Homo sapiens: one gene and its partner. The protein of the gene in region 2 interacts with the protein of the main gene of each other region in a pairwise test. Each region holds a gene or a part of one and is shown on either strand. Other genes may lie near its edges.

The links.
Region 1: the proteins of MAN2B2 (region 2) and KCNK5 interact in binary tests that used the Homo sapiens proteins (3 or more experiments, as listed by UniProt).

What each region holds. Positions count from the first base shown.
Region 1 is NC_000006.12:39,188,457-39,191,499, forward strand, and holds the end of KCNK5 (potassium channel subfamily K member 5), read right to left. Parts: coding exon 2,434-3,043; 3' UTR 515-2,433; downstream 1-514. UniProt on the Homo sapiens protein: K(+) channel that conducts voltage-dependent outward rectifying currents upon membrane depolarization. Voltage sensing is coupled to K(+) electrochemical gradient in an 'ion flux gating' mode where outward but not inward ion flow opens the gate.
Region 2 is NC_000004.12:6,570,844-6,578,188, forward strand, and holds the start of MAN2B2 (epididymis-specific alpha-mannosidase isoform 1 precursor), read left to right. Parts: upstream 1-4,345; 5' UTR 4,346-4,367; coding exon 4,368-4,505; intron 4,506-5,734; coding exon 5,735-5,881; intron 5,882-7,345.

The DNA.
Region 1 (3,043 bases), on a different chromosome or scaffold from region 2:
ATCTCATCACAGTGGTAGAGGGGACAGGAGCTGGGCTGCCTGGGTTTGAATCTAGTCTCACCATTTTTACTGAGATTTTGCACAAGGCAACTTCTCTGTGCCTGTTTCCTCGTCTATAAAATGGAGATGTACTGATGCCCTCTCAGGGTTCTTGCCAGGTCAAATGAGTCCACTCACGTATTATTCAGTGCAAGCATTTAGTGCCTGACAAAGTGGTGAGTGACATGCGTTTGCCATGATCACCCCGCCTCTCCCCTTGCTCCTCCCACTCCTTCCTGATTCTCAAACCTCTACTGCAATGTTCCTCCCGCGTCCTTACCTCCCCACAGAGGCCTGCCTCTCCCCGCTCTCTTCATCTCTTTTCATTCTTTTCTCCCCTCCAGACCATCCAATCCTCTTATCAGTCTGTCCTGAGTCCTCTCTATCTTCTGTGGATGCGCCCAGGCTCCCCTGCTGCTCAGAGGCCAGAAGCCAACCCCTCTCTAACCTGACCCACACACAGCACACACCAAGCTGGCCTGTCCACCTCATGTTTTATTGTAAAAATGTTAAAATAAATTACATTTGACATCGTTGCCAGTATGTACATACAGTGTGCGCGATGCCAGGACAACCAGCAACAACATGGTTCATTAAAACATTTCACAGAAAAATACGAGGCTGCTCCTTTTCAGGCCCCTGCTGGGTGGCGGCCTCTGCAAACGGCTAGAGAAGTGGGGGTGTGGGCACGTGCCCATCACTGTCTTCACATGTTGGGGAGGTGGGCTCTGGCCCCACTGCCCCACAGTAGTGGGGCAGAAGGCAGAGAGTGAACGGAGCTGAGCGGCTCTGATGACTTGCTTCCTGCCCGGCCTCCAGTCACCCGCAGTGGATGCCCCTTCCTGCTTTTGCTCACCTCAGTGTCCCCTTCTCCACCTCTGCTTGGGGACATGGCCCTTGACATCATGGCCTTGGATGAGGTCACCGAAAAAGGCCCAATTGAGTTGCAGGGCAGGAGGGCAGACACTAGATCTCCCAATCCTTGGGACCCTGCTCTTTAACCACTGGCTCTGAAGCCAACAACAGATTCCAGGTATATAAAAACAGCAGTTTGTTTAAAAAATAAAACAAAAAATAACAAAAACATTCAGGACACAGTGGGCCAGCCCCAGGGTGAACATCATGGAGAACCCAAGAACTCTAGTAGCAGCAAGTTCTGCCCACCCCTCACCAGAGAGTCCACCAACAGTTTCACATTATCTTTTGCTCCCCAGCCCAAATCCTTTCCTTTCTTAAACACACACGAGTGCACAGGTGTGCGTGTGCACACACGCACTGTGCACACACACGTGCACATCAAACACTAGCTAGAGAAAGGAGCTTGATTCACATATCTGACCATCACCCATTTGTGGGCCAAGAGCAATTTGGCCTCACCCTGCCTGGCCCAAGGGGGCTGGTGGGAGGGGAAGGCGGGCAGTGAGGTCCTTGTTCAGGGCACAGGGAAGGAGAAGACAGCAGGATTGGGAGTGCAGGTCCTGGGGCCAGCGGGCAGGGTGTGCAGTTCTCAGGCGGGCAGGAGGGGTAAGGGCAGAACCAGCCAGAGCTGAGCCTCACTCTTGCAGCTCCCTGGCCACCAGCCCTAGCAGTCCCGGCTTCCAGTAACCCATGCTCTGCTACTCTCCCTCCTACCACTTGGGGGCCCACAGAAAGCCTTGCGTCTGCCACTGCTTGACCTGAGACAGGGAACACAGCTCTGGGCTGGGCCTGAGTAGACCAACAAGGAGGATGAGGACCCCAGGCCCCAGGCCCACATAGGACTTGTTTCCAGGCCCTGTGAGTCAGGACTGTTTGAGACCCTGCCCTCATCTCCTCACTCCCACCTCCAGCAGCCTCCACCCCACTACGGTTTGTAGTAGGTGCCCGACCTGACCGGCAGGCCCACAGCTGGGATGCGGGCGGGCCCTGCTCCTGCTGTGGTACGGAAACACCTGACCCCACGCACAGCGGTACCTCCCCAGACACTTCAGAGCTCCCTCTCCAAATGCCGAGCTCAGTAATACCGGTAAACTTAAACAGCTGAGGCCCCAGACCTCAGAGAACCGTGTGATACTCCACCAAATGGTGAGACAAAGACCCTGCAGGCAAGGCCTCCTCAGGGTCAGTCCTGCCCACCTGTCCCGCCAGCCAGCATGTCTTTGCATTGTGAGATACACCAGCCAAGCTCAGGACAGATGCCCCCACAGCCAGGGTATGGTTCAGCTGGAGAACAGAGGCCCTGTCCCGGGCATACATCTAGCTGAGGATGATGGAAGGTTAGGAAGGCCCCTGGCCCCCCACTCCCAGTTCCGAGGCTGCCCCCCCACCAGGGGCCAGGCGTCCCGGTCATCTCGGGACACCCTAGGGTGAGGGGGGAAGAGGCCATCAAAGGTGGGGTGGGGAGCCGGCCCTGCCTCATGTGCCCTTGGGGCTGTTAGCCTTGTTGTACTCATTCATCAGCTGTTCGTAAGGCACAGAGAGCTCAGACTCAGTGCTGGTGAAGGTGGACTCGGAGGAGGAGGGGAACTCGCCCATGTTCAGGGGCGCCTTGGCTTCAGCCCCCTGCTGGGGGCTCTCCTCCCCTGCCAAGTTGTCCTCTAGCGAGGACTTGGAGGTCTCCTCGTCTGAGAGGCCAGCCTCCGTGTTCACGAAGGTGATGCTGGCGTCCTGGAAGATGAGTGGGTGGTAGTCCTGGGCGTCCCATGGCTCGCATTCCTCGCTGATGCGGTCCAGCTGGTTCATGAACACCTCGGGGGCAGGGGAGCTGTCTTCAGGGGCCCGTGCCACAGCCTCCTCATCTGGGGACCTTGATACGTGGCCTTTGCTCCTCAGTGTCTGTGACACCTCTTCCAAGGTGGGCACCCGGTTCTTGGAGTAGACTACCAGGGGCACCAGGGAAGGGGGCAGTGCTGGGAGCCCACCGCCTTGAGGCCCCAGCCCTGGGCCCGGGCCCGTCTCCCCACCCCCGCTTGTCTTCATGGCCTTCTTCCCGATCTGCTTGATGAGGTCGTTGTAGGTCTCTTCC
Region 2 (7,345 bases):
CCAAGGGCTCCACTTCACAGCAAAAGAGGTGCAACCGCAGGCACACCCATGGTGTCTAGTGGTCCTATTATGTGCTGTACAACCCAGAGGCTGCTGGCTGATGGGGAAATGGAGTGGCCAGTTGAAGGCTCAGCCACAGCACCAGCTTGGAGGTGCCACCTGTGAAGCAAGGGCACCATCCTCCAGGGTGTATGTACATCCCAAGTCAATGACCAGTACACGATGTCCCCAGTGGGTAAAATACCTGGGCCTAAGAACCAAAGAATGGAAGCAGGAATAGCCTAATTTAGCATCACTCTCAGTGACCTACTTGGAGAATATGTGCTTCCTGTCCACACAACTACAGATTCTGTAGGTTCAGAGGTTCTGGTTTCCAAAGGGGAATGCTTCCACCAAGCGACACCAGTCACGCCAGGCTACTCATGTCAAGACACCAGTAGGCAGGGGAAGAGTCACCCATCGAGCAGGGGCAGTTGACCTGAACCATCAGAGGAGGTAGGGTTGCTGTCACACAATGGAAGCAGAGAAGACTGTGTGCCACCCACATGGGTGTCCCTCAGGACTCTTTCACCTGATGTAGTCAGCAAATAGGCAAGTGAGCAGCTATGGCTCAAGAAGGGAATGGTCACCAGGGGCTCATCCTCGTTGGTGAGGATCTGGGGCAACCCACCAGGTAAGCTATCTAGTCCAGCATGGGTCTAGCTGAGGGTGAAAGGGATCTGAATGAATAATCCAGGAGGGGGTTGTGAGTATCACCTTCAAGCCTGAGACTAGCTGCAGCAAGAGCTCACGCAAGAGCCTTGAGGAAAGTACAAATGAAACCCTACACAGCTGTGATACAGTGGGCAGGAGAGAAAATGACATGAGGTCTCACATGTTGTTGTAGTCAGATGGGGGGCTGGAGCTGAAACAGCATGGTGATCTTGAGCTGCTCCCTGTGGTCTGCCCCATGTGGGCTGGTTGGGCTTCCTCACAGCATGGTGGCCTCAGGGTAGTTGGACTGCTGACAGGGCAACTCAGGCCTCCAGGCACGAGTGCTCCAGTGAACATGGATGTCATGGAAGTCACACAGTACAACTTTCACTACATTCTCTTTGTAACAAGTGTGTCACAAGCCCGCCCATGGGCCAGGCACAGTGGCTTATGCATGTAATCCCAACACTTTCGGAGAATCCCTTGAGGCTAGGAGTTTGAGACCAGCCTGGGCAACATAGAGAGATCTTGTCTACAAAAAAGAAAAGAAAAATTAGTTGGGCATGGTGGCATACACCTATAATTTCAGCACTTTGTGAGATGGTGGTGGGAGGATGCCTCGAGCCCAGGAGTTCAAGATCAGCCTGGGCAACATAACGGGATATTATATCTAAAAAAAAAAGAAAAAAAAAAGTTTTCATTAGCCAGGCATGATGGCACATACCTGTGGTCTCAGCTACTCAGGAGGCTGAAACAGGGGGATCACGTGAGCCTAGGAGTTTGAGGCTGAAGTAAGTTAGGAGTCCACCACTGCACTCTGGCCTGGGCAACAGAGCAAGACTCTATCTCTAAAAAACACAAAAATTAATAAAATAAAAAACAATAAATAAACAAGATTCAATGAGAGGAGACATAGACCCTATCTCCTAATAGGAAGAATGTCAAGATCATATTGTAAATCAAAAATAAAATTATAAGCCCCAGCTGAGAGAATGGACCCCCTGTCGGCCAAGGGGACCCCAAAGAAACCCAAAAAACTAGTTCAGGCCATGATGGGAAGTGGGAGGTCACACATGCCTCATCATAGCCTCCTCCCTTTAAGTTTCGGCACAGCTGACCAGCATTAACATTAACATAGAGATCCTCCTAAGACTGACAGAACACTTTTGTAGCAATCAGATACCCGATTCTAACATGACTCTGGTATAGCAACACACGACAGAGAGCAGGCCCTAAAGGAAATCAAAGTATTTTACCCCAAAATAAATTTTCTTTGACATATTTTGAAATGGACTTGCAAAGTCATCTCTTGTGGGGGAAACTTGCATTCTGTAGAGAATCTCCTTACTTACTAGCTCTTTTCCAGAGAGTCTGATACCTTTTAAGGTCCCCAGAGACATGCACATCTATTCTCTCTGAAGCCTGCTAACTGGAGGCTTCATCTATGTAACAAGAACCTTAGCTTCCACATCCCCATTGTCTTAACTCAAGCATTTCTTTCTGCCGACTCCAACTCTTCAGGTAAAGCTTAACTCTTTTAACCAATTGCCAATCAGGAAATCTTTGAATCCTCCTCTGACCTGGAAGCACCACCCACCCACTTCAAGATGTCCCACCTTTCTGGGCCAAACCAATGTATACTTTACATATATTGATTCATGTCTTTGCCTGTAACTTCTGTCCCCATAAAATGTATAAAGCTATAGCCCAACCACCTTGGGCACCTGTTCTCAGGACCTCCTGAGGCTGTGTCACAGGCCATGGTCACTCCTATTTGGCTTAGAATAAACGTTCTGAGATATTTTAGAGTGTGGCTTTTCTCGTCAACCAAATTCTACAAAGAGCTTGGGGGGTGGGTAATGTTGTGGAGCCCATCTTTGGCAGATACAGTCTGCCAAAGATTGTGACACTGCCTTATCGATAAACTCAGTGGCTTAACACAATTAAAGCTTATTTCTCCCTCTTGTCACAGCTCTTTGGGTTCCTCATGGTTCCATGTGGTTCTTCAGAGCCTCCATTGGTGGCTCTAACCTCCCTGAGGTCCTCGGAGTGCCCTCCACTGGAGCAGTGGGTGAGTAAGAGAGCAGGGCTCACCCACAGGAGGTTGTTAGGGGCCAGCCTGGAAGAGGAGCACAGTGCCCGCCCCCACCCATCCCATTGACTAGCACTTAGCCACGTGGCCGCACCTGGTTGCAGAGGCTGGAGAGTGGAGCCCAGCTGTGAGCCTGGCCGGTCATGGGGACATGTGTTAGTGAGTACTGTCCACGTCAGGCTCAGACCATCTGACCTGAGGCTATGGGGATGCAGGGGTCCCCAGGGGGTGGACAGGACAGAAGGAGGAGGGAGACCTGCTTGGAGAACCTGTTCTCAGTTTCCATTTGTTACATAATGGACAAGAGGACCAGCACTTTTGCTCAGAGCTGCAGCTCTGGTTCCGCTAGGAAATGCCAGGCAGGGGCACAGCCAAGTGGTTCTCAGACAGTAAACCCCAAGCCACAGACCCTTGCTTTCTTGGGCAGGGAGTAGTGGACAGGGCTGACTCCAGGCAACAGTCCCAAACAGGCTGCACCAATGTGACCGCACCTCCCCTGAGTGCAGGCAAGGGGTGCTGTGCTCACGCTCTCAGCCTGGGTGCATCCTTACTTTGTTCACAGCTCCTCTATCGGACCCATTTCACTGAGGCTCAGCGAGGTTACCTATGTCGCCCCAGGTCACCATCCAGTAACCCAGAAAGCTTCTCTTGGCTCCTCCACTAACTGCGTGATCTTGGACAAGTCAGTTACTGTCTCTGAAAGCCAGTTCTCCTCCTTAAAATGGAGACAGTTGAGCCAGGCATGCTGGTTTATGCCTGTAATCCCAGCACTTTGAGAGGCGGAGGCAGGAGGATCGCTTGAGCTCAGGAGTTTGGGACCAGCCTGGGCAACATAGTGAGGCCCCCATCTCTATAAATTTTTTTTTTAATTAGCTGGGTGTGGCAGTGTGCCCCTGTGGTCCCAGCTACTCAGGAGGCTGAGGTGGGAGGATCACTTGGGCCCGGGAGGTCAAGGCTGCAGTGAGCCCTGATCGCGCCACTGCACTCCGGCCTGGGAGACAGAGTGAGATCCTGTCCAAAAAAAAAAAAAGGAGACAGTCCCATAACAAGCCCCCCATGGCGCCGCCCAGATGGGGTTTCGACGCCAGGGAGAGGAGGGAAAGGGTTATCAGGGAAGGTTCCTGGTGGCAGAGCTCACAGGGTCCGTGCTGAGCCGAATTTTGCACGGTAGCCTCAGAGTCCCGGAGCCGAGTCCAGAGGGCGGGATGCAGGTATTGCGAAGAGGCACACGCTCCGAGAGGAACCACCAGAGCGTGGGCTTTGGGCGAGGAGGGGTCTCCTCTGGTTGGGGGAGATCTGGCAGGCTTGGGGGAGATGGGGCTGAAAGGATGGACAGGGAGGGAAGGCCAGAAAGCTGGAGACGGGGATGGAGAGCTAAACCGCAAAGAGCAGGCGCCCTGCCCCGCTGAGGGCCCCGCGCCTCCAGCTCCTCCTTCCCGAGCTTCCCGGGGTCGGCGTCCAGCCGGCAACCAATGGGCCCCGCCCCCGCCCGCAGCCAATGGGCCGCGTCCCCGCCCGCGCGGCCGCCCCGCCCCTCGCGGACCCGGAAGTGGGCCTGGCACCTTCCCGGCCTGCCGCAGGGATGGGGCAGCTGTGCTGGCTGCCGCTGCTGGCACCGCTCCTGTTGCTGCGACCGCCAGGGGTCCAGTCCGCCGGCCCCATCCGGGCCTTCGTGGTGCCCCACAGCCACATGGACGTGGGCTGGGTCTACACTGTGCAGGTAGGTGCCGACCACGCCCCGCGCGCCCCTGAGGCTGCAGCTTCCCTCTCCCCGCGGGATCTGAGTGTGGGTTTGCGTCCCGGGGCCCGATGCCGGCGCAGAAGGAGGCTCAGTGGGTTCAGGACCCCACGCTGCCATTGACTGGTTGCGTCGCTAACTTCGGGCCAGTCACTTCCTGCCTCTGAACCCCCATTTCCCCTTCTGGAGGGTGGTGCAGATTGGAGGGACCCCTGCATTCCCGGCTGGGGAGGGGCTTGGGGGTTGACAGTGGTAACCCATTTTCCAGGGAAGCCTGGAGCAGGAGAGGGTGGGGCTGGCTTCAGAGCAGGTGGATGTCAGGTGCCCGCTGGGAAGGGGCCGGGCTGGTCCCCTGCGGGGCTGAATATTGGAGGCCAGCTCAGCGTCCTCCGCCCCCCAGGACAGGGGTGAAGGTGGACCTGTGGTCACCTCCTGGTTCTGCTCAGGACCTTGGGCGAGGGGCTTTGGTCCCTAAGCCTCAGTTTCCCCATCTGTAAAGGGTAGGGGAAGCATGCCCACTACAGCCAGTTTCCAGAGGAGAAAACCGAGGCCCAGAGAGGGTTGCTGCCTTGCCCAAGGTCGCTCGGGAATAACCCTCATGCCTCCTGACTCCCTGCTCGGTGCTCCTTCCATTCATGTAAGCACTCTGTGGGCACCCTGTGTGCAGGGCCCTCGGGACTCGGATGGGAACACACTACAGCTGTGGTCCTTGGAGCTCCCAGCCTTGGGGAGGCAGACGCCTAGACGCCAGGGACAGCCTGGGGAGCTCTTCCTCTCAGCACCAGCTTTCCTCATTTCAGCCCCAGCAGGCCCCTTTGGGGTCACTGGACCACACCCCGACTGAGGCCTAAGACTTTCCTGTGCTGCCCCTCAATGGCACACTCAGGGCCCAGCCCCCCAAATTGCACACTCAAGGCCCAGCTTGCTCACCCCTCTGAGAAACTGTCCCTGACCCCTGGGCTGGGAGGGCACCTGTCTCTGCCCATGTAGGGTGTCTGTTTCCCCGTCCCTCTCCCCCAGGAGAGCACGATCCCATCCAGTGGGGAGAGCCTGGTATGGAGCGAGTGCCTAATAGCTGTGTGGGGGGTGAGCAGCAGGGAAGGAAGGGCAGAGCCCCCAACCCCATGCAGACACACCTGGCGAATGGCAGGGGCCCCAGGGACACTTGGTCTTGTTGGACCGGGGCTGGCATGATGCTGTCCCCTCCCCAGGAAAGCATGCGGGCGTACGCCGCCAATGTCTACACCTCAGTGGTGGAAGAGCTGGCCCGCGGCCAGCAGCGCCGGTTCATCGCTGTGGAGCAGGAGTTTTTCCGGCTGTGGTGGGATGGCGTCGCCTCGGACCAGCAGAAATACCAGGTAATGAGGTCACCAGGTGACACAGTTGGCCCAGTATCCTGGCAAAGACCCAGGTGGAAAACTCAATGGGGCAGTTCTAGCCAGGGCCAGGGCCAGGCTGGCATAAACCACAGGGCCAAAACCCCACCGGGCTATTCACAGCCTTGTTTAGATCAAGGTTCACGGTGAGTTCCATGCCTGGGAGAGATTGCTTTCAATTTAATCCTGAATTTCTGTCTATTCTTGAAAAAACTGCCAGCTCTGGCAACCCAGCTGTGCACTTCCGTGCCAGCTGGCACTAAGTCAGCAGTGCCCCCTGACACCAGGCATCCCAGGTGTCCCCAAGCCCTCACCCTCTTCTCTCATTTGTGTTATCTGCCTGGCCCCCGGGCCCAGGGTCTGGTGACCCTTGATGAGGGTGCGATAGTCCCTGTGGTTTGAGGGTAGGCAGCAGGTTGCTTCATACAGCATGGAGAGTCAGAGTCCCCGCTGCACAGTGAGGCAGCCTGGGTCCCATCCTGCTCCCGCACCAGGGGACACGACTAGCCCCTGCGAGCCACAGATTCCACTTCTATTAAACGGGGGTGACCGCCCCATTGCAGAAAAGTCATGCCAAGAATGAAGCCCTGGCGTGAGCACCCAGGACGATACTCGGGGGTTCTTAGTTTCCTCCCAGGTATCCACCTGCCTTCAGAATAGTTGCTGAACATAAAGTTCAGGGACGCCAAGTGACTTGCTCAAGGGAGTGAAGCGGAGAAGGGAGAGCAGGGCGTCCACCAGGCCCCGCCAGAGTCACGGGAAGGAGCCGGACATCCAATGGCCACTTGATGCTGCCAGATAGTGGGGTTCTTACCTCAAGTTAAAGAGACATTCCAGGTTCAGAGAGGGCACGCCACTGGCCTGCAGTCACACAGCTTGTAAGCGGCAGGTGGGATTCTGAGCCAGGCATGCCTGACTCGAGGCAGGCCTTTCCAGGATATCCTGTGAGCGTCCCATGCTTCTTCAGGTGGACCCCACCAAACCCAGTGGTCTGTCTCCTAGCCCTCAAAGAGAAGCATGGCCTGCATGGCCCAGTGAAGACCTGGACAGGAAACTTGTGGCAGAGCTCCCTGGAGGCAGGAATTGTTGCCTGCTTCATTCACTGCTGAACCCCCAGTGCCTGAACAGTGCTGGTTGTGTAGTAGGTGCTCACTTAACATTTGTTGAGTGAATGATCTACATATAGTGCACCTTAAGAAACAAACCAAAGGCACAGCCTATAAACAGCTGTGTGTACACATACTGAGGTGTGTAGTGTCTAGGGCAACAAAGGTGTTATGTGTGTAGAGACGGGGATGTTAAGCAAATAGGTTAAAAATGGTAGTGATGAGTGAACCTTGGGAAAGGATATGGGAGCTCTTTGTTCTATTCCTGAAACTTTTCTAAAGTTTAGAATTAGTTAATAAAATAAGATTTAAGAAAATCTTATATATACAAATATATATC